Homo sapiens: one gene and its partner. The protein of the gene in region 1 purifies or fractionates together with the protein of each later gene. This does not show direct contact. Each region holds a gene or a part of one and is shown in the gene's direction. Other genes may lie near its edges. The genes, in order: CYP4V2 and GATC.

Region 1 (3,020 bases):
TGATGCGTATTTGATGGGTATTTAGCATCCCCTGCCTTGATCCACGTGTTCTTCTTTGAAGGGTATTTGATGGGTATTTAGCATCCAGTACCTTGATCCACGTGTTCTTCTTTGAAGGGTATTTGATGGGTATTTAGCATCCAGTACCTTGATCCAAGTGTTCTTCTTTGATGGGCATTTGATGGGTATTTAGCATCCCCTGCCTTGATCCACATGTTCTTCTTTGAAGGGTATTTGATGCGTATTTAGCATCTAGTACCTTGATCCACGTGTTCTTTGATGGGTATTTGATGGGTATTTAGCATCCAGTACCTTGATCCACATGTTCTTCTTTGAAGGGTATTTGATGGGTATTTAGCATCCCCTGCCTTGGTCCACGTGTTTTTCTTTGAAGGGTATTTGATGGGTATTTAGCATCCAGTACCTTGATCCACATGTTCTTCTTTGATGGGCATTTGATGGGTATTTAGCATCCCCTGCCTTGATCCACGTGTTCTTCTTTGTTGGGTATTTGATGGGTATTTAGCATGCCATGCCTTGATCCACCTGTTCTTTTTAGATGTCTGCACCCCCAGCCCCCACTGCTCTTTCAGGTCATCTTATCTACTTGCTTTCATCAGGGAAGTCTGACCGTCCCGCTACAGTAGAAGACCTGAAGAAACTTCGGTATCTGGAATGTGTTATTAAGGAGACCCTTCGCCTTTTTCCTTCTGTTCCTTTATTTGCCCGTAGTGTTAGTGAAGATTGTGAAGTGGGTAAGTATGCTATACCTAAAGTAGAAGGGAGAGGGAAACTTTCTAATGTCTACCTTGCTCCGGTCTCATAATGTATTGACTACTTCTTGACAGCAGGTTACAGAGTTCTAAAAGGCACTGAAGCCGTCATCATTCCCTATGCATTGCACAGAGATCCGAGATACTTCCCCAACCCCGAGGAGTTCCAGCCTGAGCGGTTCTTCCCCGAGAATGCACAAGGGCGCCATCCATATGCCTACGTGCCCTTCTCTGCTGGCCCCAGGAACTGTATAGGTTTGTATCCATCTGAATTGGTTTGACCTTTCAGGCCCACTTGATGGTGGGTTTCTCACAGTGATTTCTTTGAGATGTGATGTGACATTGCCCATATGCAACAGCCTTAAAAAAAAAATAGGTGGTTTCTTTTTTCCCTCACTGTGCTTTGTAGTTTTAAAATATTACGGTCAAAAGGTATATTAGTATATTCGCCTGCATGGGCTTCCATAGCAAAATACCACAGACTGGGTGGCTTAAACAGCAGAAATTTATTTTCTCACAGTTCTGGAGGCTGGAAGTTCAAGAACAAGGTGTTGGCAGGGCTGGTTTCTCCTGAGGCCTCTCTCCGTGGCTTGTAGATGCCATTTTCTCCTTATGTCTTCACTTGGTCTTTCCTCTGTGTGGGTCTGTGTCCTGATCTTCTCTCCAGTCAGACTACACTAGGGCCTACCCCAATGACCTCACTTATACTTACTGACCTCTTTCGATTACCTGTCTCCAAATACAGTCATATTCTAAGGTATGGGGGGGGCTTAGAATTTGGAGAGAGACACAATTACCCATAACATAAAACATAATTAGCTTCATGGTAGAGTTTCAAAATGTTGTAGAGTTTTAATTACAGTAGAATATAACTTATTGTGGTAAAAACTTTATTAATGATTACTTATGGTTAACCTAATTTTTGTGTTTATTGCTTTTAAGAATTTCATTTTGCAAATCAAAACAGCAAATGCTTGCCATATGGCCAGCTAGTACTTAAGCAAAATGAATGCACATCACCACCCTGCATTATAAACCCTTTTGGTTTTAGTATCTCTAGCATTTTGTCATTTATGTAAATGCAGACATCGGTAAAATGAGGCCAGAGTGAAACGGGTGAATCTGAAGCTTTTTTGGTGAATCCATAGTAAATGAAAGACCCACTAAGACATAATCTAGGGTAGTGAGTCTCAAGCTTGAAGGAGCTCAGGATTTATCTGGATCAGCTGGAGTACAAATTCTCTGATCCTCCCCAGCTATAGATGTGCAAGGTGGGATCAGGGAGGGAAACTCAAGACTCTTCATCTTTAACAGGTGTTCCAAGCCATTCTGGTTCTCCTTCCACCTACTGCGAAAATGTAAAGTGGCTCGCTTCCTATGACAGGACCTCTTGTTTCTCACATTTGGGGTAAATCTATAACTAAAGCGATGGTATCTACATTAATTTGAAGGTCAAAAGTTTGCTGTGATGGAAGAAAAGACCATTCTTTCGTGCATCCTGAGGCACTTTTGGATAGAATCCAACCAGAAAAGAGAAGAGCTTGGTCTAGAAGGACAGTTGATTCTTCGTCCAAGTAATGGCATCTGGATCAAGTTGAAGAGGAGAAATGCAGATGAACGCTAACTATATTATTGGGTTGTGCCTTTATCATGAGAAAGGTCTTTATTTTAAGAGATCCTTGTCATTTACAATTTACAGATCATGAGTTCAATATGCTTGAATCCCCTAGACCTAATTTTTCCTTGATCCCACTGATCTTGACATCAAGTCTAACAAAGAAAAAGTTTTGAGTTTTGTATTTTCTTTTTTCTTTTTTCTTTATTTTTTTTTTTTGAAACCGTGTCTCACTCTGTCGCCCAGGCTGGAGGAGTGCAGTGGTGTGATCTCAGCTCACTGCAACCTCCACCTCCCAGGTTCAAGCAATTCTTCTGCCTCAGCCTCCCAAGTAGCTGGGATTACAGGTGCCTGCCACCATGCCTGGCTAATTTTTTTGTATTTTTAGTAGAAACAGGGTGTCACCATGTTGGCCAGACTGGTCTCAAACTCCTGACCTCAAGTGATCCACCTGCCTCAGCCTCCCAAAGTGCTGGGATTATAGTCGTGAGCCACCACGCCTGGCCAGAGTTTTTTATTTTTATCACCACCATAGATGTTACAGTTGGCTGTGGTCACAAAAGTAGTTAATTGTGTCAGCACCCAAATAAACATCTAACAGGTTTCTCAACAGAGGAATCCACAGTCCAATT
Region 2 (3,822 bases), on another chromosome or scaffold:
GACTGCTTATTTTTTTAATCTAAGTATCTGGAAGCAGGCTTACACACTTTTACACCTTGAAACAATAGTGAAGCCTCATGCAAATGTTCAAGCTCTTGTGTGTTTTTTACCGGTTTGCCATCTGAAGGCTTTAGTAAAGTCACTAGGTCCCACAGAACACTGGGAGATTCTTGAGCTGTTGGTGGCACATCTTGCTCAAGGGCAGGCACATCCACCAAAGTGGCTGTGGTGGAAAAAGCATTCATTTTAGGTGTATCAGATTGGGCTGAGATCCCAGTTGTTACTTAGCAGCCAACATCCTTAAGTTACTCTTGTGGCAAGTTTGCTTCCCCATCTCTGCTTAGCTTTCCAGCTTCATCTTCCACCCCGGCAGACCACACCCCAGCCTGCTAAACTCCCTGTCCTTCTCTGAATCTCTGAGCTCTCGGCTCTATTGCTTTGGGATTCATGCTGCTATACGTGCCAGGAAGTCCATTTCTCATACCTTCATCCCCCAATCCAGCTATTTCTTGCCCATCCTTGAACAGTGACATCAGCTATTCTGAGGATGTGCTACTCACGCAGGCTGGACTAGGTACCCTTTCTATCCTTTGGCAGGCTGTACTAACCTCTGTTAGATTTAAAATATTGTTTTTGTAATTGCTTTTACCTGTCCCCACCAAAAGACAGTTGCCCATATAATCATCAAAAACTATTTGTTAAATCAATCCAGAGAAGTAATTAGCACTTACTTCTCAGGGTTGTTCGGTCAATCTATAAACTGTAGGCTGTTATTTGGTCTACTGTTGATCCCAGCTTCTCTATCTTTGAACAGTGCCCATTAACTCAAGAATATACTGCTTCCTTGTTCTCTCCTTCTTGCCCCTCTCCATCATCCCCTAAAAGCCCCCTTCTCTGAGAGGGTAACCTTGAGCTTCTGGGTTTTGTAGATGTCTATACCTGAGATCCGACAATGTGGTAGAAGGCAACTGTGCTGATGAATTACTACAAAACTCCCATCGCGTCGTGGAGGAGTACTTTGTGGCCCCCCCAGGTACGTGCTGCCCAGAATGGTTTAACAGATAGTCTCACAGTAACCTTAGGAATGAAGCAGGAAGCATGAGGACCAAAGATGCTATGTGAAGGCACTTTGAAAAGGATGAAGTGCATACAGATGGTGGCATTAAGGTGGCAGTAGGGTCCAGGGTCATACTCACCTCTAGGGGGCAGTTAGTAACAGGAACAAGCAAAACAGGATTGGGGGCATGCGGGAGGTTTAAAGTAGGTGGAAATCTGGAGCTCAAGATCTCCCTAAAGGGGCAGCTGGCATTCAGTGTTTCTCAAAGCCACAGTTAAGACCCTGCCAGATCCTGTAATCGACTCCAACTTTCTAGTATTCATACCATGAATAAATATTTGTTAGGTCTAGCTTTGGGCTGGGTACCACAAAAAAACCAGTCCTTTCCTAAAAGAATCCTTTTTTTTTTTTTTTTTTTTTGAGACGGAGTTTCGCTCTTGTTGCCCAGGCTGGAGTGCAATGGTGCAATCTCGGCTCACCGCAACCTCCACCTCCCGGGTTCAAGCGATTCTCCTGCTCAGGCTCCCCAGTAGCTGGGATTACAGGCATGCACCAGCACGCCTGGCTAATTTTTTGTATTTTTAGTAGAGACAGGGTTTCACTGTGTTAGCCAGGATGGTCTCGATCTCCCGACCTCAGGTGATCCACCCACCTCGGCCTCCCAAAACGAATCTTATTGTGACAACTTAGTTATCATGTGTGGCCTTAGCCCAGATGTTTCTGTCACATCTTTGCCTATGACATGATTCAAACGCCATTAGGGTCTGCCCTCAGTCTGTGCCCATTCAAAGCAGGAGGAGCATGGCTGCTACCCTATCAGTGTTGCCAGGCAGGAATGTAAACCCATTTCTCCAGAGAACCTGGATACCTGACATTTTGTGTGATATTTCTTAAATTTTTTTTTTTTTTTTTGAGATGGAGTCTCGCTCGGTCACCCAGGCTGGAGTGCAATCTTGACTCACTGCAACCTCTGCCTCCCGGGTTCAAGCAATTCTCTGCCTCAGCCTGCCGAGTAGCTGGGATTACAGGTGCCTGCCACCATGCCTGGCTAATATTTTTGTATTTTTAGTAGAGGCAGGATTTCACCATCTTGGCCAGGCTAGTCTTGAACTGGTGATCTACCCGCCTCAGCCTCCCAAAGTGCTGGGATTACAGGGGTGAGCCACTGCACCCCGCCGATATTTCTTAAATTTTAAGTGCTAGCAACCAATTCAAAATTTAAAAAACAAAATACCATCCAAGCCAAATAAAACACATCTGCAAGCCAGGTGCAGTCTGTGAGCCATCAGTTTACAACAGCTGGTATAGAGATTTGCATCATCTACCTACTGTAAATATTTTAAATAGAAGCTTTAAAATTACTCTGGGCTGACAGTAAAATCCAGAACCTTGGATAGGTTGACTGTTTTTATCTCCTCTGCAGGTAGGTGAATACTTGGAGCTGTTGTACTACCCCTCTGGGCATCTGGGAGTGGGACTAGCCAAAAGCAATCAGGTAGCCTGCTAAGTGCCAACTTCCAGTTCAGGATATCCTGAGGGAGAATCATTCTGAGCAGACTCCACAGAAGACATTGGCCCTGGTCAGCTTAAGGTGCCAGTTAAAGGCAGGCTCTGGTTGATGCAAGGATGGGAAAGAAAGCTAGAAATTTTGTGAGCTAAACTTTTTGTTTGTTTTGAGACGGAGTCTTGCTCTGTTGCCCAAGCTGGAGTGCAGTGGCGCGATCTCGGCTCACTGCAAGCTCCACCTTCCACGTTCATGCCATTCTCCTGCCTTAGCCTCCCAAGTAGCTAGGACTACAGGCGCCCACCACAACGCCTGGCTAATTTTTTGTATTTTTAGTAGAGACGGGGTTTCACCGTGTTAGCCAGGATGGTCTCTCTCTCCTGACCTCGTGATCGTCCGCTTCGGCCTCCCAGAGTGCTGGGATTACAGGTGTGAGCCACCGCACCCGGCCGTGAGCTAAACTCTTAATCATGCCTCCAATCCACTAAACCACCTGTTAACTGTGGAGAGAAAGGAGACTCTCCATCTCAGAGCCTGATAGTTGTGGCTCCAGCAGAAATATCTTTTGATCAGACATGCTATCTCCCACACAGAACCTTACTTCAGACTTTGCTTTTTGGGACCACCTGAGTTCATGGTCAGTGTTTCCTTCTAGTCCTATCTGCATATTAGTGGCTAATCAACCTGTATACTCCTTACTGAAAAAGGTGAATTTGGCTACACTTAGAACTGATTCTTTCAGATACTCCCAGTTAGGAAAACAGGACAGTAGCTACATTACTTCCATATTTTCCATGAGAAAGTAGTGATCAGTTAGCTCAGTAGAGCCAGCTGGGCGGCAGGCTCAGCTATAACATTCTCTGTTGTGGCCGGGCGCGGTGGCTCATGCCTGTAATCCTAGCACTTTGGGAGGCCGAGGAGGGCGGATCACGAGGTCAGGAGATCGAGACCATCCTGGCTAACACGGTGAAACCCCGTCTCTATTAAAAATACAAAAAATTAGCCGGGAGAGGTGGCGGGCGCCTGTAGTCCCAGCTACTCTGGAGGCCGAGGCAGGAGAATGGCGTGAACCCCAGGGGGCGGAGCCTGCAGTGAGCTGAGATTGCGCCACTGCACTCCAGCCTGGGCAACAGCGAGACTCTGTCTCAAAACAAAAACAAACAAACAAACAAAAATTCTCTTTTGTTATTTTCAAACAGGTAATATCTCTTTGCCAAAGCTGGATGAACAAGAGCCATTCCCACACAGCTGAGTAGCTCAT

What was found.
Region 2: the proteins of CYP4V2 (region 1) and GATC purify together in Homo sapiens (affinity purification with mass spectrometry; 2 studies listed by BioGRID and IntAct, with this or other methods). This does not show direct contact.

Annotation. Positions count from the first base shown.
Region 1 is NC_000004.12:186,208,245-186,211,264, forward strand, and holds part of CYP4V2 (cytochrome P450 4V2), read left to right. Parts: intron 1-620; coding exon 621-755; intron 756-848; coding exon 849-1,028; intron 1,029-2,224; coding exon 2,225-2,397; 3' UTR 2,398-3,020. UniProt on the Homo sapiens protein: A cytochrome P450 monooxygenase involved in fatty acid metabolism in the eye.
Region 2 is NC_000012.12:120,456,147-120,459,968, forward strand, and holds part of GATC (glutamyl-tRNA(Gln) amidotransferase subunit C, mitochondrial), read left to right. Parts: intron 1-929; coding exon 930-1,033; intron 1,034-3,760; coding exon 3,761-3,813; 3' UTR 3,814-3,822. UniProt on the Homo sapiens protein: Allows the formation of correctly charged Gln-tRNA(Gln) through the transamidation of misacylated Glu-tRNA(Gln) in the mitochondria. The reaction takes place in the presence of glutamine and ATP through an activated gamma-phospho-Glu-tRNA(Gln).